2 separate regions of the Homo sapiens genome follow, and region 2 is linked to region 1. The links come from fine-mapping of genetic effects on gene expression. Tissue or cell type: whole blood. Region 1 holds a variant in brackets; the other region holds the start of a gene. All regions are shown on one strand. Distances are from middle to middle.

Region 1 (10,673 bases):
TGCCACACGCCCCCTTTAAGTGAACAGTGCTACAACAAAATTGCTGCTACTAGGTGTTAGAGACATCTTAGCAGGCGCCTTCCCAGAACAAGAAGAGCCAGAATTATTTGCTGGGCGGCCACGTACAGTCCTATTTTAAGAGCGACCTGGAGGGCAGCCCAATCACAGATGATGGTTTCTAGTTCTCTGGAGCAGCCAGCCCCCTCCCCCCAGCCAGTCCACCAGCAGACCCCAAACCAGACCGATAACTTAGCATTTTCATTTAAGTCCATCTGACAAATCGTTTTAGGCCGAGAAAGCAATACTGCATCTTTAAATGGCTACTTTGTCAGCGCGTCTCTGTGCGCTGTAAAAAGTCCTTTGTTATCTGTGTCTAGACAGCACGCCAGCGGAATATTTGGTCTGCGTGAGGGGAGAGAGATCTGACAAGGTTGAATTCATTTACCGGCTTATTTAAAGCGGGATTTCAAAACACTTGCTCATAAACTGTTTTCGGCCCAGACTCCCCGGCCTCCTCCTAGCCCACACTGGCTTTTCTTGCTTTTATAATTTTTCACCTGCTCGGGCAGTTAGCTGGAGGTTGCAGCCGGGTGGGTACCCTGGCGAGGAGAGTGACTGCGGCTTGCAGCTTTTTTCTTTTTTTAATTGTCCTCTTTATGACTGTCTAGACGTTCTGCAGATGCACGTTCTCGGGGGAAATGGCTTTTCCCTCTGGTTACAGTACTTGGGAGGGTTGCAGACGGCACCCCCTCCAACCGTTTGACCACCCAGCCCCCTTTCTAAAACCCCTCAGCCATTCTTCCTCTCCTTAAATGAAGGCACTTTGCCTCCTGGCAGCATCTTTGTGTTTATAACACATTTACTTGACTGTGCTAATTTTATACCATCATCGAAAAAGGAAAAGTGACATTCCAGGTTTTCTTCTCTCTGAGGGGTGGGCAGAGACCCCCCCCTCCCAGCTCCTCCCCACAACTTCCCCCATTTCTTCTTACAGCTCCTCCTTTTGTGGCAATGTTTTGTTTTGTGGCATGCCTACATGCCTAGACAAATAAAACACCAGAGGTTGGCTTCTTAAGGATGAAAATATCAGGGCTAGTTGAATGCGTCCGAGGTTTTAGTTCTGCCAAATAGATGCATTAATTAACCTCATTGCCATAGCGACTAGGTCATTGTTACCGCAGTGAAAAACTGGCAAGCTATGGGGGTGGAGGGTCTCCCGGGCCCCCCAATCACCCATCACCCGCCCAACAGGAACCGGTGCAGAGGCCAAATAGGCATCGTCCTGCCAGCAACCAGAAAGTGGTCCCACTTTGGCTCCTTCAGACTCTGCAGTGGGTGGTGGGGGCGGTTCTCAGAGCCCCCCTCCTTCTTAGGCAGCTACACAGCCCAGTGGACTTGGGAAATTCAGTTGACTTCCAGGCCCGCTACATGTTCAGGTCAGGAGGGAAGCAGGCTTCCGAGTTCCCTTCTGGAGCGAGGGCTGCGGGGTGGAGAGAAGTCACCCTGCCCCCCTCCCAGCTAGACCCCTAACTCCCCGACCCCCACCCGTGAAAACTATTGTCATTACCATTGACCTGCTGCAAAGCCATAAATTTCCACCCGCCTCCCCTCCCGCAGTCATCAATCTGCCCTCCGGTTTTTACTTGGTAGGGGGCACAAAAGCTGGGGAGGGGGAGTCAGGCGTGGGCAGCTGACCAGATGTCTCCTGGGATCCCTAAACTGCGTCTCATTTCTGCCAGATGAAGCGAGTCTAACCTATCAGCCTACTTGACTGCGGTGTTGCGGAGCCGGGGGTGGGGCGTGGTGGGACATTTCGTCTGCAGGAGATAGAGAAGGACATCCCATAACACTCCAGGTTTCTTGGCCAGATCTTTTTATTTCTACCCCCAAAACAGACAGCCCACAGGCAGGAGTGGTCTGTTGAGCAGCTACTCCCATTGTGCCCCGCATGGGTTTATGATGGACTTTGTGCAGGTGGCTGGACAGTGTGCTTCGGAGGCCGAGAACTCCAAGAACTCTGAGAGCTGCTGGGCTCTAGTCCTTCCCTCTTGGTGGCAGCCTGGAAGCCTGTAAATTTCCCCGCGGAGTGGGGAAGTGGGGTGACTGTGCTTGTAATATTTCAAGTTATACAGTCATTCGGGGGTTCTTTCTGCTCTCTCATAATTACAGCATCTTTAAGAAGAAATATCAACATGAAGTATTTTCAGGGGAAGAGACTTTTAAAAGAAACACACACACACACACACACACACACACACGCACACAGGCCAGAACACCACCACCGAGTTAGTATAGTAATGCAAGTTCGTAATGCATGCAGGGCTGCTCGCTCCAGGAAGCTCCCAAGCAGGAATGTTCCTGAAGGATGGGCTATTAAATATTGGATCCTCAGGCTGGCAGATGCGTCTGCGCTGTAATTGGGTCTTTCCTGGAGTAATTAAAGGAAAATGATTATATTAACCCAAGTCACCAGGCCAGCATGGCATAGAGAACTGAATGGCAACAGTATTGATGTTTCCCTCCAAAAACTGGCCTCTCTCAGCACATCAAAAACGCACCCTTGGCTTGAGTTTAGGGAGCTTTCCTTTCTTTGCACTTTTTATAATTGATCGCGTGTCTCCTGGCCTTCTTTTTCTTTTTAAAAAGCAGTGGGGGATATCCGTGCCCTCTAACGTGAGCAGCCTCTACCTGCTCAGGGAGATCTGAGCTTAAGGACAAGTGTGGCGTAAATGCCCCCGGAGACTGCGGCGTGAGAGATGACATTGAAAAAGGTCTGGCTTTTAGAGCTCAAACCTGGGAGGCTTGGACTCTTTTTTCTTCTTCTTCTCCTTTTCTGAAGAGTTGGAGAAGCCGGAGTTTCAAGACCGTCTTGGTGTGCTGCCTTATTTAGGAGGCGAGCTGCTGCTCATTTGTCAGGCAAAACAGATGTGGTGGGGAGACAACATCTATTTTCATAATTCGAAACAAATCTGGCGAGCCGCCTTCCTTTTCAGCGGGGCCTGCTCATGCAGAAAGCCCAGCTCCCAGGCAGCATCTAGCAGAAATATTTATAGCTCATCCATTGAACTTTCCTTCCTCCAGGAGGAGTTGGTTTCTGCTGGCGATGGGGACACAGACTTGACAGGGAGTGGGTGCTGTTTCAGGGATTTTTTTTAAATCAAAAACTGGAGGAGTGTGGGTCACAGCCAGCGACGCAGCTGTGCCTCTCCTTCTCGTGTCCTTTCGTCTTCCAGGTGTGGGGCGGTGGGCACGGGAGCCTGCTCTGTAGCATTCAGCAGCCTCTTTACTGGGAGGGCAGTTAAAGGCTGACTTTGAAACTCCTCTGGGCCGGCGCCTAGGACCCCGACACTCCAGGGAGACCCAGAACCTGGGCCCCTAGTTACCAGTGACTTTGTGCTTAGGTATGCAAGGGCAGCGGGCTGTCATTTCCCCATTTTATGGATGAAACCACCGAGGCTCAGAGAACAGCTTGCCCAAGGTCACACAGGGAACCGCTGGTGGAGCTGGTCCCCCGCTCTGAGCACCATTCACACTCAGCTCAAGCCTTCATTCCCACTGGGAGCCTTTGCTACGCCGTCACCTCCCATCGAAGGTAGCTGTGTCTGTCTGTGTGTAATAGTGACCTAAGGAAGGAGGACAGACCCGGTATTTGGGCGAATCACCCATCTTCTGTTCATTTATCCAGTAGGTGAGCTCCTTCCCTGTGCCACTGGAGATGGGAGGACCTGGTGAATGGAACAGGCCTGAGCCTGCCCTCAGGGAGCTACTAGTCTGGTGCAGATGGGAAACAGAGTCAGATACTGAACGGAGGAGGAGATTCGACAGTGTCACATGACTGTGCCTGGGGGCTGCTTTATTGGTCTGAGAGGGTCTCTCAGCAGGGCTGACCTTGTGCTGAGAATGAGGGATGAGAAGGAGTCAGCGGTGGGAAGACCTTGGGGGGAGTACCTCAGGCAGAGAGGAGAAGCCGAGAGGGTGAGGTCTGCTAAGCTAGGTGTGGTGGCCATGTCCAGTTCCCAGCTGGCCGTGTCACCTTGAGGGGGGACTGACCAGGTTGCAGTTCCTTCTTCTGTAAAATGAGGGGGTGACTAAAGCGTACACAAGTTCTGATTCTGGGAAAACCACAGAGAATCGAGTTTTGTAAGGTGCTGCCAGCAGGGGAGGAGGTGGAGGGTACGTGGAGAGCTCTATTATTGCTTACAGAATTGAACGTGAAACGACAATGGTTGCTAAATTAAAAAGTTGGTTATTTTAAGCAGTGAAAGGTCTGGGAGGGCCGTTCCCTTCTTGATGCTGGGACCACCCTTGTAAGAGGCAGCGCCACACCATCCTCACGGTCGTCTCAGGCAGGGGACACCCTAGAGAGGTCTCTCGCTGTCACCCGCAGATGGCAGAAGTGGGACTGGCTCCGGGGCAACCCCTGGTTGCCTCGCACAGGGCTCCCTCCCTGGCAGGAAGGAGGCCCATGCAGGGTGAGGGTGCCCTCAGGAGCTCAGGCAGGCGGCAGGTTTGGAGGGACGGGGGTTCCCAGTGGCAGTGATGGAGGGGTGTTTCTCATTCCCCACTGCCGTGATTCCATGCAAGTGGATGGAGCGTGCTGGAGAGGTCAGGAAGGAGCATGGGCGCCTGCCTCACCCCTGCCCCACCAGCACTCAGGCAGGCCTCACAAATCACAATGGGCCCTGTCCCTGGTAGCACCCAGGGTTGATGAATGGGGACTCCCAGGCCCTGGGGCACTTGGAAATCCCTCATGCAAAAGGTGGAAACTAGAAGTTGTCCTGCAGATTGACATTCTCAGAACTCCTTCCCTCCCTTCCTCACTGACCCGGCCCCGACCCGTGGGATGATTTTCATTCTCCTGCCTCCAGAGAAGGACCTGTGCTTACGTCCTCACGCAGACTGCTCTCCGCCACTTTCCCTCACCCATGTATTCATTTCACAAGCATTTACGAAGTGCCTCCTGTGTGTCTGGCATGGTGGTTGGTGCCAGTGTGCGTTGATCGGTGATCAAGGTGGTTGCGACTCCAGCCTACAGAAATGTACAATCCAAGTGTGAAATGAACAACTGCCCTTTCCTAAGCGTTTGCTTTCAAAGCAGATGTTTTTAGACTAAGTTGTTGTTATTCTTCAAACCGGTTGTGTGTGGTTTCAGTCCCTGCTTCTGTCTTCACATTGAGGCCTAATTAGGAATCAGCTGTTGCCTAGCTAATGTTTATTGAGCAAGCACTATGCACCCGGCACTGTGCCTGAGATATTCACTATCATCTGATTTAATCCAGAGTTTCTCGACCTTGGTGCTGACGTTTGGGCTCAATAATTCTTTTCTGTGGGGGACTTCCCTGTGCGTGGCAGGGTGGATGTTTAGCTACTTCCCCTCGCCCACTGGATGCTAGTAACACCCCCTCCCAGTTGTGGCAACCACAAGTGTTTCCAGATATGGCCAGATGTCCCCTGGGGCAAAATCATCTCC[G/A]GTAGAAGAACCACACCTTAGCCCTAGCAGCTGCCCTTGAGGTCCCAGTCCCTTCATCTGCAGAATGCGGGTGTTGACGGGACTCCCCAAAGCGGCTCCTTGGGAGCTTTGAATGATATAATGCACTTAAAGCTCTTAGCACAACCCAGCTAAAGCTGGAGTGGCTGCAGCTCTCCCCGCTGGTGTGTCTGAGTGTCTGACGGGCAGAAGTCGTTTTTACCATCCACTCATCCCCCGACGGTTCCCTGGGGCTTGCAGTGCAAGCCAGACTCCATGCCACAAGCTAGGCTCACCTTGCAAAGATGGTCAAGGTCACAGCCATTGTGACCCTCACTCCCACCAGGGATGCCTGCGTGGACAGCCTGTACCCAAGGAACTGGAAGGCGCAGGCTCTGGCTCTAGCCAGCTTTGCACGGTTGCTCTGTGTCTCTGGGCAACTCCCTCCCCCTCTCTGGCCCTGTCCTTTTCTCATCTGACCCATTTTAGGGGCTTCTAAGCCACTCTCCTCCCCTAGAAACTCAGTATCTAAGAGGGTGAGTTTTTTCCCAAGGTTTTCCCCTGGGTCGTTTACAATTCTGATCACTTAGGGATCTCTGAGCCACTCACAGTGCCAGGTGACCACCCCCTTCCAGCATAACAAATTCACCTATGTGGCTCCAGCAGTTGCTTTCACATCCTGGGCTTCATAATTGAACAAGTGGTTCCTTCACTAAGGAAGCGAGCGCCTGGTTGGAATCTGTTCATCCATAGCGGGCGCTTGTAAGTCCATTCCCTGCAGGTCCCGGAACCCGCCACTGAACGATGTCAATTTCAGCCTGTTGGACACGGCTCCCGCATTGTCTGAAAGGAGCTTCCCCAGCAGGTCTGATGTGTGCCGTGTTTGGAGAGTCACACTGGAAAATGATACCTGAATCGTTTCAAGTTCACGTTGTCTATGCTGCCTTTGCCCCAATACACACCCATGGCCACCTGCAGGAAGTCTCAGTGCAGCTTTGCCAAGCCCCAAAGCAGCTAGCTCCTCATTGTATCTTCATGCTATGCCCCAGGAGGTAGGGTTTCTTGCCCTTGAATGAGACAAAGGTTTCCTACCTCAGGGCATTTGCACTTGCCATTGTTTGGCCAGGAGTGTTTTTTCCCCAACTCTCCTCATATTTAAGGTCTCTGCTGAAAAGCCACCTCCTCCGAAAGGCTGTCCCTAACCAGATCATTTAAGGAGGTCCCCGCTCCTAGGTGCTCATTATCACAAACCTGCTCTAGTTCTGTTCCATGTTCTGGAGAAGACAGAGGAGGACTCTTCTTCAAAAACACTCGTGTTGTTCAGAGATCCCTGCAGTTCCTGGCTCTTCTGTGCCTGAAGTGCTCACTGGCAGAGACGTCCGCAGTTCTTCCTGAACAATATGTTGATACTTTACAGTGATGCTTTCTCTTGGGGGTACAGTGGTAGTTTGGGACATCCTTTTGGGAGTATTTGATTGTATTGGGGAGGCAGTGACACTTTACATCGGGGAATCCCAAGCTGCTCTCCCTCCCCTGGCTCTTGTCACCTTTAAGACAGAGGTTGGAGGTTCCATGCTTATTACTTGGGGCAGACAATAGGAGCCAGTGCTTCCAGATTACTTAAAATCTCCTTTCCTCGTTTCTAAATTTTAAATGACGTGTTTAGAATTTAATCTTCAAACCTGGGAGCCAGACCTGCAAGTGGAGAGATGACAGCCGAGAGATGGTTTCGTGTGGCTGCAGCAGCCAGATGGCAGATGCTGTGAGCGGGAGGCGAGGGAGGCTGCGAGAGAGGGAAGCGGCTTCTGTTTCGGCTCTTACCCTCCCTTTGCAGGAAACTAACCCCCTCCCCCAGTGCCAGGCCTGGGCCAGGCCCTAAGGACCGCTTAAGGCTGCTGGCCTCAGCCTCTGCCAGGGCGATTCTGGTGATGCCAAGGGACAGGGCACTCCCAGACCGTTCACTTGTTTTCAGAAAACTTTTTATTTTGAGACAATTGTTTGTTAGCATGCGGTTGTAAAAAATAATACAGAGAGGTTCTATGTAGATATCCTCCAGCTTCCCCCAATGGTACCGTCTTACATAACTGTAGTACAGTGCCAAAGCCAGCAGTTGACATTTGTCACAAACCATCAACCTTACCTTTCCCCAGTTTTACACACACTCATTCGAGTGTGTGTGTCTGTGTGTGTGTTTCGTTCAATGCAGTTTTATTGTATGCGTAGATTTGTGTAACCACCAGTCAAGACACAACAGTCCCATCACAAGAACATCTCATTCTACCCTTTTCTAACTGTATCCACCCCCTTACCCATGAAACCACTAATCTCTTCTCCATTTCTATAATATTGTTATTTTAAGCATGTTATAGAAATGGAGTCATACACTATCTAGCCTTTTGAAATTGGCTTTTTTCACTTAACGTAATTCTCTGAAGATGTCTCCACGTTGCTGTAGGTGTCAGTAGTTCATTCCTTCTTGTTGCTGCGTAGTGTTCCAAGGTATGAATGCACCATGGTTAGTTTAACCATTCACCTGTTGAGGGACATCTGGATTGCTTCCAGTTTTTTTTGTTTGTTTGTTTGTTTTTGCTATGAAAAGTAAAGCTGCCGTGAACACTCATGCACAGGTTTTTGTGTGAACATTAAGTCTTCATTTCTCTGGGATAAATGCCCAGGAGTGCAATTGCTGGGTCGGATGGGAGTTGCAGATTTAGTTTTTGAAAGACCCTTCAGTTTCCATTCACATCCATGCCCTCCTCTGGTCTCTGGCTTTGGTGGAAAGATGCGAGTGCTGGGGAATGGACATTTTGCAGAGATTCCTTCCTCTTTCACATGTTAATCGAGGGCCACTTCTTGTGTCAGGTGTGGTGTTAGCCCTCACGGATACAGCGCCAGGGTAAATAAGGGTCATCGAGGCGCTTTCTTGCTGGTGAGGTGCACTTGACAATGAACAAGCAAGCACTTAGAAAGAAGATGGTTTCTCATAGCAGCCAACACGTACTCAGTGCTTCCTACACACCAGGTGCTTTCTGGGTTCTTTACGATCCTCAAACAACCCAATGAGACGGGGCCATAGTTCACTCCATGGTACAGACAAGGAAGTGGAGACACACAGCTGCTCCCACAGCCAGAATAATCCATGCTCCTGACCATACTCTGCACTGCCCCTCGTGACCAAGACAGGCCACCAGGCGATGCAGAGTAAGAGAAGAGGTGAGAGCACATGTGGGATGACAGACCCAGGGCAAGTCTTCCCACAGACAAAACTGCATGTGCAAAGGCCTTGGGGTGGGAGCAGGCGAAAGGCCAGGCTGGCTGGCGCATGGTGAGCGAGGAAGGAGATGGGAAGTGCAGTGGTGAGGTGGGGTGGGCCTCGCAGGGTTTTAACCTGAGCATAGTGTGGGAAGTCAGAGACTTGATTTTTTTTAAAGATTGTTCCGGCTGCAGGGTGGAGAATAGACGGGGGGTGTGTTTGCAAGAGAGGAAGTAGGGAGACAAGGAGGCCACGTGGAGAAACCTTCTGCTCTTGAGGGATGAACGCCAAGGTTCTCTCTCCTCCTCCTTTGGCCACAGGGTCTCTGTGTGGGTGCTCAGCAGTGCAAGGAGGCCTCTCGTCATGGGGGGTCCAGCTCCCAGTGGCTCTCCCACAGCTCCGCCCCTCGAGGGCAGGAGAGCTGATCCCCAGCCAGTCGGCCCCTTGAGCCTCTGCAGCTGGACCGTGAGCTCCCATCTAGGTCTGTCTTCTGATGGATGTTTCTGGTTTCTTGAGTTTTCTCACCATTTCTCTTTCTTCCTCTTTTCGTACCAGTTGTGATTCTATAAATTGAATTTACCTGCTCAGTATCAGTCACTCCAGATCGTTAATAAACGTGCGCCTGACATCCTTGACGCATTCACCATGCTTGCCCGGTCAGCATGCATGCTTTGCCATGTCATGATGCCTGCTTTGCCATGTCATGATGATCACCATTTATTATGCACTTGCTGTGTACCAGCTAGCGTTCCGAGAGCTAGTACCTATGTCCCTGTTGAGTTCACCCTTAAGCAGTCCTGTGAGGCAGGTACTGTTGTTGATTCGTGCCTTACTGTGAAGAAGCTGAGGCAAGGGGCCAGGTCACCACAGACACCACACATACAGCAGGTGGCTGCATCTGGATTCGAATCCAGAGCCAGGCTCCCTGCCTTCCACAGCTTTGCTGTGTCCCCATCTCGACGCTCAGAGAAAAGACACCTCCGGAAGCTTCCCCTGCTGCCTTCGCAGAACAGTTGGTCAGAACCTCGTCTTCCCAGAATTTGGGATTTTCTGCTTCTGGAAGATGCTGCTTCGAAAGGAAGTGATAGCAAGGGCTGGAATAGCCTCGCCTGTGGGGCGGGGACAGGGAGAGGCGGCTGATGTCTGGGAGGCTTAGAACTTCCTTCTTGGAATCTGTTTTTCACGTTGCCTGAAAAAGAAAGAGGAAGAGACTCATACAGATGGAGACACAGGGAAAGACTCAACGGATTTAGACCCCAGACAGTCACACACCGGAGACAGACAGACAGACAGATGCCCCAGAGGAAAGGACACACCCCCAAACAATCAAAGGTGGGAGGCAGACACACAGACACCCTTGGACACGTTTGCTGCCCTGGAGCCCCCTCTCTAGCGAGGTCGCCCTTCCCATCTGAGCTCCTTCCCTCCTCAAGCTGCCGCTGGGCCCGGCAATCCATTCAGGGGCCGACTGTCAGTGTGGCCAGCAGCATTTCCTAGACCCTCCTCCCCCAAACCGGAAAACACTCGTAGCAAGGAATGCCCCGCCTGTGGGCCAGGGGTCTTCCTGGGCCTCTGAGCCCCACATGAAGGTGATGAGCCAAGCGCCAGGCTAGGGTCAGCAAGTTGGCATGGTTGGGGGGCACGTGGGTCATGATGGCAGTGACCTTCCAGCTCAGTCGGGCTCCTGACGGACTCAGGCCTTGCCTTTTGCTGCTTCCAAGAGGTCGGAGGAGGTGAAGGCATGGCTGCCGGTGGAGGGGTCGGGGCTGCTGGAGGCTGCTTTTCGGGGTGGGTACTTTGTTTTGAGTTTGTTGTCCACTCTTGTGACTAGTGAGAACAGATATCACAGCACCGGGCTCTGTGTCCCAGGCACAGGGAAAGTCTGGCCCTTGCCACCTGAACTTCTGTGACTTTTCTGGGCGGGACGGGTGGAGGGTGGGCGGTGACATTGTT
Region 2 (10,673 bases), 30 kb before region 1:
CACAACCAAGAAAATGCGAGAACACATGCAGATGCACGCACAACACACACATACCCTCATAGCACAAATACTCACATGCGTACCCCAAACATATGTACAATACAACGTGCACCCTCAAACCCTCAACACAGACGACACACACCACACACACACAAATACCCCACAGCGTGAATATGCACATGTACGTCCTGCATATACATGCAACGCACACCCACAAGCTCACAGTGGAGACCACACATGCACAACACGTCTTTCTGGCTGAGACTTCTGGTTCTGGTTGATACCATGCAAACGCTCCTTGCTCTTCTTGGTAGGTGCTAGCCCAGGTGACTGGCTTCTGGATACTCAGCTGCAAGAGGATACTTGGAGGTGGAGAGGGTGAGTGAGCGGGAAGACTTGTTAGCCAGTCATGAAGGCAGCCAAAAATGGGATTTGGATGTGTTTGTGGGTAGGTGTCCCTCCTGCATTTAGTCCACAGAGGTTTGCCAAGCACCCACTGCAGGCCAGACCCCAAGCAAGGCATGCCAGACTGGCCTGCCCCCTGGAGCAGTGGAGGGGATGGTGAACTCACAGACACCGAGTCCAGGGGCCGCTGGGCCCTGTGCTGAGGCCTCCCCACACTGCCTCTCCCTCACTGTGAAATCCCGCTCCTCCCTGTTTAGTGGCAGAGGGGACGCAGGTTCAGTGAGCTGAAGCAGCCTGCCAAGGCTGCCCACGCCAGACCCAGAGCAGGTGCTGGAGTGGCCTCTCACCAACCCAGCCGCTCCAGCCTCACTCCGCTGCAGAGTCAGCTGCCCCTCATGGTCGGAGATGAGGTTTTATGAACAGACACCACCAGCGGTGAGGCAAATGGTGGATCCCCGGGGGCCTCCGTGGAGCTGAGGGGGACGGCGCCAACCGAGTCCAGTGGGACGGCCAGGGGGACGGCGCCAACCAAGTCCAGTGGGACGGCCAGGGGGACGGTGCCAACCGAGTCCAGTGGGACGGCCAGGGGCACAGTGCCAACCGAGTCCAGTGGGACGGCCAGGGAGGACCCAGTCAAAGGCAGTGAGGAGGGAGACAGGGTGCAGAAGGCATCATTTGCTGAGGCCAGCCCATGGGCTTTAGGGCCCAAGTACCTGATTCACATCCCAGCTCCACCTCATCCTTGGGTCCCTGAGCCTCAGTGTCCCCATCTGTCAAATGGGAATAATATCAGCTTGGACCTCAGAGGGTTGTCGTGGGGATCCAGTGAGCTCATTTCTGGCTCTCCGTAGGATCCCAATGCATATTTGTGGAATGACTAAGTGGAAGAATGTGAAGTGGTTAGAACAGGGCCTGGCATGGCACATGGGCAGTGCCCAATAAACATTGGCTCTTACTAGTGTTTAAAAGTAAAACAAGACAAAAAAAATGAAATCCAAAGTTGCTAACCTGTGAAAGTTGACAGCCCCAATTAACCCCAACCTGAGGAAGAAAATGACCCTGCTGGACGGTGTTTCCAAAGGTGCTAAGTTGGGAGGGGAGGTCATTAATCTGCCTAAGGTTTCCCAAGACTAATTCTGCAGAGGCAGCTCCGTCCAGGCAGGCCGGGGGTGGCAGGCAGACAGGGGCACGGCTGGCCCTGAGGAGGGCCTCTGCCTTGTCCCCTCAACCGGCTCCCCAAGCAGGACTTTTGTTGGCTCAGTCAGGCACTTTCCACAGTGGCCAGCCACCCTCGGCCAGCGGGCACAGTCAGAACACTGCCAGCCACCCTCAGCTGTGGCCAAAACCCACACTGACTTCCATGGGGTCCCAACTGGCTGCCAGTGTGGGCCTGGCATCTGAGCAGGACTGGTTACAGATTTGCAGGCCCCCGTGTTCAGAAACTGTTAACTATTAGGAATTTCACGATGTCAACAGTAGAAAAAATTAAACTAAAAAATAAATAAATAAAATAATACAATAAACCCCCGACCCTTCAGAGCATGGGGCCCTGGAGAGTGCAGGGGGGTCACACTCCCACGAAGCTGGCTCTGCACACAAGTCCAGCAGAGCACAGATGCGCGGCGCTGCTGGGAGCAAAGCCCCTTAACCTGCTGAAACAGGACGTTTCCTCTGGAAAATCCCCCCGGCCGCGGATTCAACCCATGGGCAGGGCGGATGGTGGCACACGCTGTCTGGAGTCCCAGAAAGGCCTGTCTCTGCAGTCACCCATTTCACAATCCATTTGCTTCACACACCCATTTCACAACCCCATGGCCACAGCCAGGCTGAGAAATGTGTCCCAAACTCCAAACCTGCTGGGACCATGAGAGTCTCCCAGTTCCTGATGCCCCCACTGGCCTGGCATCCCCTCTCTACTGTCCCCTACATGCCCAGCCCACATCTCCCCAGAGAGGAGGCCCAACCCTTTGGGCTCAAGTCGCCTCCAAACCCTCTCCTTTTATATTCTTCCCAGGTCTCGTCCCTCTCTGAAATTATCACCTGGACTCATCTTTTTACACATGTGATGTCAGCCTCACCTGTGAGCCTCAGTATGGCTGGGGCTGCACCTGTGGGTGGTTGGTAACTGCAGGTGGAATGAGATGCCACCTCCTCAGGGAGGGCTTCCTTGATCTCACCCCAACTCTGGCCTTTGGCCTGTTATCACCATGTCTGAAATGACCTCCTGACCTCATTGAGCTATGAGTTTGCATGTGTGTGTGTGTCTTTAGTCCCTTTGTCCCCCACAATGTCACACGAGGTCAGGGAGTTGGTTTTCTTCCCAGCCCTGTGCCCCATACCCAGCACAGAGCTTCACACTGAATAGGAGCAGAATGTTTGTTCAATGAGTGAACAAAACCTTTTTTTTTTTGCCTCTGACTTGTGGCATTCTTCCCAGGGACTCAGGCCTGCCCAATCGCGGTGCCCCCTCCCCACTCCCACTCCCAGCAGTGAGCCCTCCCTCCTCAGCCCATTAACACCTTGGCTCTGCCCATTTCTCCTGGGTAGAATCAGGGAGTTGTGACCTTCTCTGCCTGTGCCTGACAGTGGGCTCTGCCCTTCATGCCCAAAATGCCAGCATCACAGTCCCTGGCACATCTAGGGTTATCAGATTTCGCAAAGAAAAATACAAGCTATCCAGTTAAATTGAGATATACTTACACTAATCATTATTCATAGTTTATCTGAAATTCAAACTGAACTGGGTGTCCTGTATTTAATTCTCGCAGTCCTGGGCACACACGAAGCCTCCTATGAGTGCTGGCAGTCCAGCCTATGCTCCTTCCAAAGCAATTCTCCTTTCCTACTGCCCCGTCAGGGGCCCTGTCTGTGCTGGAATCATCATTGTCCTCAACTGCAAAATGGAAAATAAAATGATAGTGGTTCCTCCCTCCCGGGGTTGCCAAGATGATTAAATAACATAACAACTAAGATGTATCCGGCCCCTTCTCCTCTACTTGCAAGGCATCGATCCCTTCATTCCTCGCAATCACACCACGTGAAGGTGCCATGAAGCCACCCCATTTTGCAGAAGAGGAAACTGAGGTTGGAGAGGTGAAAGCACTCAGCCGAGGTCACACAGCTATGTCCCACTCATCTTTGGGTGACCCTCAGGTTCGGACCCTGAGGTCTGAACACTGCATTAAGCTCTCCAGACAGAATCAACTTCGGAACTAGCGCCAGAGACCACTAAGTCAATCCCAGGTGACACCATCAGCACTCAATAAATGGTAGCCACTGCCGGTGTCGCAGATGGATCAATGGGAGGTCAAGCGTTGTGGGTAGGTTTGGTTTCTTTAAGCCACTGAATTAACTGGTTATTTTTGCCTGCTGGCAGTGCAGCCTCCATTGTGTAAATGCCATCTCACTTCCAAGACAATCAACGTGTGACTTCTCCCAGCCAGACTAGCCAGGTCTCCCGAGACTTCCCGGAGGGCAGGGGCTGTGTCTGGAGTGGCTGAATTCCCCGGCTCAGGGTTGCAGCTCAGCCAGTTTGTTGATTGAATGAATGAAGAAATGGCTGAAAGCAGGGGTGGTAATGATGACCTCCTTCACCCTAGGAAGTGAATGGGACCCAGGTCATCTCCAGGCCCAGCCAGTATTTGCAGTGGCACCCCAAGGGATGCTGGGGGACCCCTTAGCTTTTCTCTTAAGTTGCAGCGGCCAAACTGCAGCAATATCTTCCCTGATAAAAGACACGCTGGTGGTATTGCCCCTTCCTCAAGGCAGGGGCTGAGGGCGCCCAGTTCACAGCAGGGTGCCATCTGGGGTAGACGCTGGGTATTGCCCCACTCCTGGGCCGGGGCCTGGGTCCTGACCTAGTGCTGGCTGTGGCTCCAAGAGTGAGCTTCTCCTCCCAAACAGAAGACGGTCAGTGCCTCTGAACCTCCCTCTGGGCTGGGCACGCTTGGACTCCTCCAAAGAGCTTGGACCAGCCTGAGCCACATCCCTGGGCTTGACTTCTCCAGAACAAGCCTCCTGGTCTTTCTGGGAGAGCTCTGGCAGCATCACTGTGCCTGTGCAGGGAGAGCGGGAACCCACTTCCTGCACCGGCTTTCTCTGAGTTCTTCAGGATGAATTCGCTCTGGTCTAGGTAAGTTCTACCCCGAGGCCACCTTCACTTCCCAAATTCCAGCTTTTCCTTCTCTATCCAAACTGTTACAAACACAGTAACAATAATTTTTAAAAGCTTTTTTTTTCTCTGAACACACTAAGTCCCTGCTAATTACTGAAACTCCAGGCATTACAGGAATATGTGGACACTTAAAGAATCAGGACTACGTGGGAGAGGGGGAGGCAGCTCCCCAGGGTCCTGGGTTGGCACACAGGCTCCACCACTGTGTGACTTTCAACAAGCGACTTCCTTGACCAGCTGCCCGCTCTGTAAAATGGGGAGAGTAATATTCGGCCACACTGAGTCGGTGTCAGGTTGAGTTAATATTTGGAGAGTTTCTGGCACAGGTAGGTGCTCCTTAAGTGCCTGTTAAATAAGTGAAGCTTTGAGAAAGTGTCTAAAAGGCGACACACTAAATTTTTAAGAGGCTGGAGGTGGGCCAGGGAGGGGAGGTCTCTTATGTAATATTTTAATATCTTTTTAAACCTGAAGAATGTGTTCTTGTAGCACTCCTGTAATTAAAACTTAATGAACTAAAAGTACACCCCTCCTGCTCATACCCCTTTTGAACTCCGCAGCCGCGCCCCCCAGCCGGAGGCCCCTTGGGCAGCAGACAATGGGTGTGGATTCGCCCCAGGTCCCGCCGGCTGGGGCGGCGACAATACACCAGTCCCCGACAGCTATTTACATGACAAGGGCTTCCGGGCGTGTCTACGCGAGTTCCCGTCTTTCCTGGTCGTCCTCCTTGGGTTCGGGTGAAAGCGCTTGGGGGTTCAGTGGGCCATGATCCCCGAGCTGCTGGAGAACTGAAGGCGGACAGTCTCCTGCGAAACCAGGCAATGGGTGATCCATCTTGGGGGCTTCCTCCCCCTTTCTCCAATTTCTCTTCCCTGAGCCCCCAGGGACCTTGTGCTCCTCAGAAGATAGGCTAGCCCCAAGAGCCTGGGTCAAGGACCCCAGGGACGGGGGCGAGGGGAGGGCGCACCAGCAACCCGCCCGGGTGCGGCTGGCACCGAGTTCGGCTCCCCGGCCCCGGGCGTGCGCCGGGCAGGCGTTCCAAGCTGACCGCCGTTGGGGAGAGGGCACAGCGCCCCTCCTCCGTTGCGCGGGTGCCGGGTCTACGTGGGCCGCCTAGCTCTGGCCCTTTAAGAGCCCGCCCCGTTTCCCGTCACCCCGCCCCCCGGCTCGGGGAGGGGGTGCGGGGGAACCTCGGCGGGGATTGGCGCAGCGCGCGCCCCCTCCCCGGCCCCCGCGCGGTGGGAACCGGCAGCCCCGTCTAGCGCTGACGTCAGACCGTCTGCCTGCCTCCGACCGCGGTCTCGGAGCGAAACCCGATCTCCTTGGACTTGAATGAGGAGGAGGAGGCGGCGGCGGCGGCGGCGGCGGAGGCGCTCGGCTGGGGAAAGCTAGCGGCAGAGGCTCAGCCCCGGCGGCAGCGCGCGCCCCGCTGCCAGCCCATTTTCCGGACGCCACCCGCGGGCACTGCCGACGCCCCCGGGGCTGCCGAGGGGAGGCCGGGGGGGCGCAGCGGAGCGCGGTCCCGCGCACTGAGCCCCGCGGCGCCCCGGGAACTTGGCGGCGACCCGAGCCCGGCGAGCCGGGGCGCGCCTCCCCCGCCGCGCGCCTCCTGCATGCGGGGCCCCAGCTCCGGGCGCCGGCCGGAGCCCCCCCCGGCCGCCCCCGAGCCCCCCGCGCCCCGCGCCGCGCCGCCGCGCCGTCCATGCACCGCTTGATGGGGGTCAACAGCACCGCCGCCGCCGCCGCCGGGCAGCCCAATGTCTCCTGCACGTGCAACTGCAAACGCTCTTTGTTCCAGAGCATGGAGATCAGTGAGTGACCCCACGCCCCCCTCCCCGGAGACTCCATCGGGCTCGGACCCTATGTCGGGGCACAGCTGCGAGCGGGGGTCCGGGCCCTGCGCGCCCCCTCGGACCGAACGCCCTGCGCCCGGGCAGCGCCCGCCGCGCCCCGGGCGCGCCCTCCCGGCTCGCGGCAGCTGGCGGCCGGCCCGGCTTTGTCCCGCGGCGCTGCGAGCCTGGCACGGCCCCCGCTGTCCGCGCCCCGCCCGCCCGGACTCGGACCCGGGGCTCAGCGGCGGCGCACGGCGCGGGAGGGTTGGGGCGGGCGGATCCGTGAAGTTTCCATTTTATTTCCCTGAGGGCAGTCGCGATGGAGCATTTAGGCCGGCTCTTTATCAACTTTGGGCGGGGGTGGAGGGGCGTGTGAGACACTGTCTGGTCTGCGAGGTGTCTGGGGCTCCGGGCGTGTGTCTGGAGTGTTCGCGGCGCTGTGTCTCGGGCTCTGAGTGGATGTCCGTGCGTCTGTGGAGTGTGCGTGGCTGCGTGGCTCTGTCTGGGTCTTCGGCGTCTCTCGGGGTGTCTGGGGGTCTGAGTCGCGGTCTTGCCCAAGAGTGCGTGTCACCGAGTCTTCCTGCCTCTCTCTGTGTGTCTTTCCCGTGTCCGGGCCGGGGTGCCTTTCTTGAGCGTGTCCATCTTTCTGGGGGTCTGGTCTGGTTGGGCCGGATCTGGGGACCGTGTGTGTCCAGGTGTCTGAATCCAGGGCTCAGCTCTGGCCCGTCTGGCCCAGCGTGGATCTTGAATGTGTGTGTGTCATTGTGCCAGTGTCTGTGTCCCCGACGCACCTATAAATAGCCTCTGTCTGGACAGCTTGGTTCAGTCTGGCTGAGACCATGGTTACAAAGGAGTCAAAGTTTGGGGCTGTTTGTGTTTGGGACTGCCTGGCCCTAAATAAGGGATCAGTGGACCAACGGTGGGGAGTGGGGTTTTGAACCTTGTCGCTAACGCAGCCGCCTGGGCACCCAAAAGTTCAGATAAGTAAGTCTCTACCTCCTGCACACACAGCCCACCTAGGTGGACATTTGGTTGAGTGGAGAATTGAACCACTACCTCCCGGGTTCTGGCTTCTAGCTTCTAGCCTACACCTTGTCCCCCAGCCCACCTTTTCGGGGACCTTTTGCTTCCCTGAGCTTTAGTTTCCCCATCCCCACCCTGAAGAAGCACGCCAGGTGAAGGGGCACACAGTCCTTCCCTGCTGGGGGCCAGGCTGCCCCTAGCTGGGGCCCGGAGCTGAGAAGCAGCCGCTGTGGAATGAAGGCAGTGTCTGGGCGGCTCATAAGCAAGTGTCCGCAGGCGGCTGCCAGTTTGTGGCCCCTGAGCCTATACAGTGAGCTTCAAGTGGTAAAAATAACCAGGCTGGCCGGGCTTTGGTGGTGGGTCCTTCCATCCATCCACCTCTCCACACTCCCTCCCAGCCTGGAATGGAAAGCTCTCCCCCTACCCCACCTTAGCTGGCCTGTGCCAGACTAGCGAGGTGCCAGGAGGACCTGCCCAGAGCCAGCGTTTGCGGAACCGACTTGCCTTCCCAGAGGCCCTTTGTGAACTCAGGAGGCTAATGAAATGCACGAGAATGTTATTAAAATACGTTCGCACACGTTTGGAGAGTCTTGCCTTAGATGGATTGCTGCTTCAGTGCCCTCCTTGCCTCACTTTTTGCCTTTCGCTCTGTAAAGCTGCCTTGAGGACCTCCTGCTCGAGGGGCACACATCCTTGTGTCACCCTTATTCCAAGGGCTGGGCACAGTGCATCATTTTGCTCTTGTCTCTCTTTATGGTTCAGGACTTAAAAAAAAAAAAAAAAAGCATTGTTCTTATTTCTGTCCTTTCTTAGGCTCATCAGTCCATGATGTTTTTGACCTGACATCAAGGCCTCTTGTTAAATGCCTTGCCGCCGCCCTCTGCACTTTGCCCCGCCGCCGCCAGCAGCCTTTGAGTGATTGGGACCCTTGGGGTTAATACCTGGAACCCTAGCCTGTTCCAGCTGGCCCCTGGGTGCCCCAGTTAGTCCTGTGTTCTGTGTATACACAGCCCCCTACTTATTGGAAGAAAGCTGCAAGGCACGGAGGGAACCAACCAGTCTTTAAAATGCAGGTATACTGTAACAGTTTGTTTTCATCAGATTTCCCCGAGAGACTAGGGTGAGGAAGTGGTAAGGCCTGGTGTCTCCTGGAGTTTCTTTACACCAAAAGATAGGAAGGAAGGAGGGAAGGAAAAAAGAAAGGAAAAAAGCTAGTATTTGGTTTTTCTTTTAACTAGTAGTGGCTGCTGTTTTTCATCTAGTACATGCTGGGAGTTGTTTGCAACGAGAACTTGATGGATGGTTTGGAGTTGGGCTTTGAGGCAGTGTCCAAGTGGCTCCTATCCTGTAAGATACCTTCTTTTGGCAGAAGGAAATTGACCTTGCTAGGTCCTTAAGCCATGATGGGCCTCACTGTCTTCATCTGAAGAATGAGGCCGTGATGGATGAAATCTAGAATTCTATAGTCTTTCAAGATAGGGCCTCTCCCCTGCTGAGCCTGGCTGGAGGTCTTCAGGCTGGACCGGGCTTCCCACCCACTGCTGGTTCCCCTGTGTGGTCTTCAGCTACCCCAAATTTCAGACCTGAGAGGAGCCTACGCAAGCTCGGGGTTCACATCCCTGACTTACAGATGAGGAAAGTCCACCGTGGAAAGTTTTGCCCGAGGTCCAAAACCCACACCAGCCCCAGGCCAGGGTGGTTTCTCTTGGACTGCACGCCCACACCTCTTGAATTTGGTACTTGGGCCCCAGAGCAGGTCCTCCTTGAAATTGGGGGCTGGGGGAAATTGTCAGAGCCCCTTTGTACGCCGGGAGCCACGTCTGCTCTCAGGATGCTGAATGGAGTGGGCTTGACTGTAACAGGACACTCCTGGGGCCCCATTTTTTCTGAGAGTCGAGGGATGAGGCTGCTGTCTGGTGGGAATTCAGTGTTCCCAAAACATACCCGTGGGAAAACCCTTTCTTTTAAAAAGCCAAGGGTCCTGGGATTAAAAGCAGGCAGCACGAGTGACAGCCTTGCAGATGTCAGCCTGGAGCTTGAAGCGGCTACTTTTGAGGAAAGGACTCCTGGCACCTGGTTTTCCTGGCAACCTCATCTACCTCATTTCAGTTCTGCTGCGTCTCAGAGATTACCCCCGGTCTTTCTCCTCTGGTTATTGCCTCAAACTTCTGGGGCCCAGATGGATGCTAAGTTCGCTCTCGGGAAAGACTGAACCTGGGGCCACCCGGTGTCTGCTCACGCGGGAGGCGTTTCCTGAGAGTTCTGGGAGGTGCCCCTGCCCTGGGCCCATCTCTGGTGGTATCTACGGTGGCAGCTGTCTTTTTAACATCACCCACTGGCCAGAGTCACCGAGCCTCTGATTCTTCTTCTCCAACCTTTTCCAAACAAATATGAGAAAATATCAGAAACTCACAGGACACCCAGGTTTCCCTGGGCTTGCCTGGCACATGCTGTTTGACACTTGCTTGAATCAAGTGAGGGTGTAGAGACAGTGCCTTGGCACTGTGACATTCTGAGCCCGGTAATTCTTTGTTGGGGGGCAGGAAAGGCCGTCCTGTGCTCTGTAAGGTGTTACCAGCACCCCTCTCCCACACCCACTAGATACCAGCACCCCTCTCCCAGGTTTGACAGCCAGAAATGTCTCCAGACATGGTCAAATGCCCCCTACTGAGACCACTGTTTAATCAGTTAGTGGTTTCTCCTAAGGGGCTTGAGGGCCAGAGGGCAGCATCTGCGTTGCCAGGAGACCCTTAATTCCCGTCAGACGTTCGTCCCTGTGAAGGCCTGTGGCCACTCCGCAGCCACTCATCCACTCAGCTTTTACTGAGTGCCTGTTGTGTGCCATGAAGGAAAGATAGGGGCTTCCTCTTGAGATGAAGTTTTCCCGTTTTCGTCTTGGATTTGCTTTTCTAAGGAGAGACCCTGGCGTTAGTGAAAGCTGATGTTTTGGATTGGGGTTAAAATACAGATGTCCAACACCAGCTGTTCTCCCCTGTGGACCCGCTAAACCCTGGGACTTTTCACCCACAGGTTTTCTGACTGTCTGGGTTTTAGGTTGTGGTGCAATAGGGGAGTTATTAAGGGAGTTGAGTTCTATGACCCGAATCTTAGGTCAGACAGTTGGCCTCAGCTTCCCAGGAGGTCTGGGTTAAGCCAGCTACACTGCCCAGTGTGACCCAGGGTCGAGGTGAGTTTAGCATTTGTCAAAGCACAAAATAACTAATTGTTCCTGTACAAACACA

What was found. PIP is the estimated chance that this variant, and not a neighbour inherited with it, causes the effect.
Region 2: it holds the start of PMEPA1, and the variant in region 1 is fine-mapped to the expression of PMEPA1 in whole blood (TOPMed, PIP above 0.99).

Annotation. Positions count from the first base shown.
Region 1 is chr20:57,675,140-57,685,812 of GRCh38, reverse strand. All of the region lies in intron 1 of PMEPA1 (prostate transmembrane protein, androgen induced 1), which reads left to right. Among named protein-coding and RNA genes, the nearest start is that of PMEPA1, 30 kb to the left of the region's middle. RefSeq lists enhancers at 3,347-3,847, 4,157-4,206, 4,297-4,356, 4,767-4,876, 5,257-5,326 and 5 more and a silencer at 3,775-3,938. The variant G/A (reference allele first, on the strand shown) is at 5,471.
Region 2 is chr20:57,705,188-57,715,860 of GRCh38, reverse strand. PMEPA1 (prostate transmembrane protein, androgen induced 1) reads left to right here and starts at 5,846. Exons shown (of 4, transcript NM_020182.5): 1 at 5,846-6,387. The coding sequence starts at 6,279. NKILA (NF-kappaB interacting lncRNA) reads right to left here and starts at 5,678. Exons shown (of 1, transcript NR_131157.1): 1 at 3,081-5,678. RefSeq lists enhancers at 273-801, 3,181-3,792, 6,853-7,464, 10,555-10,673 and silencers at 5,445-5,564, 5,585-6,014.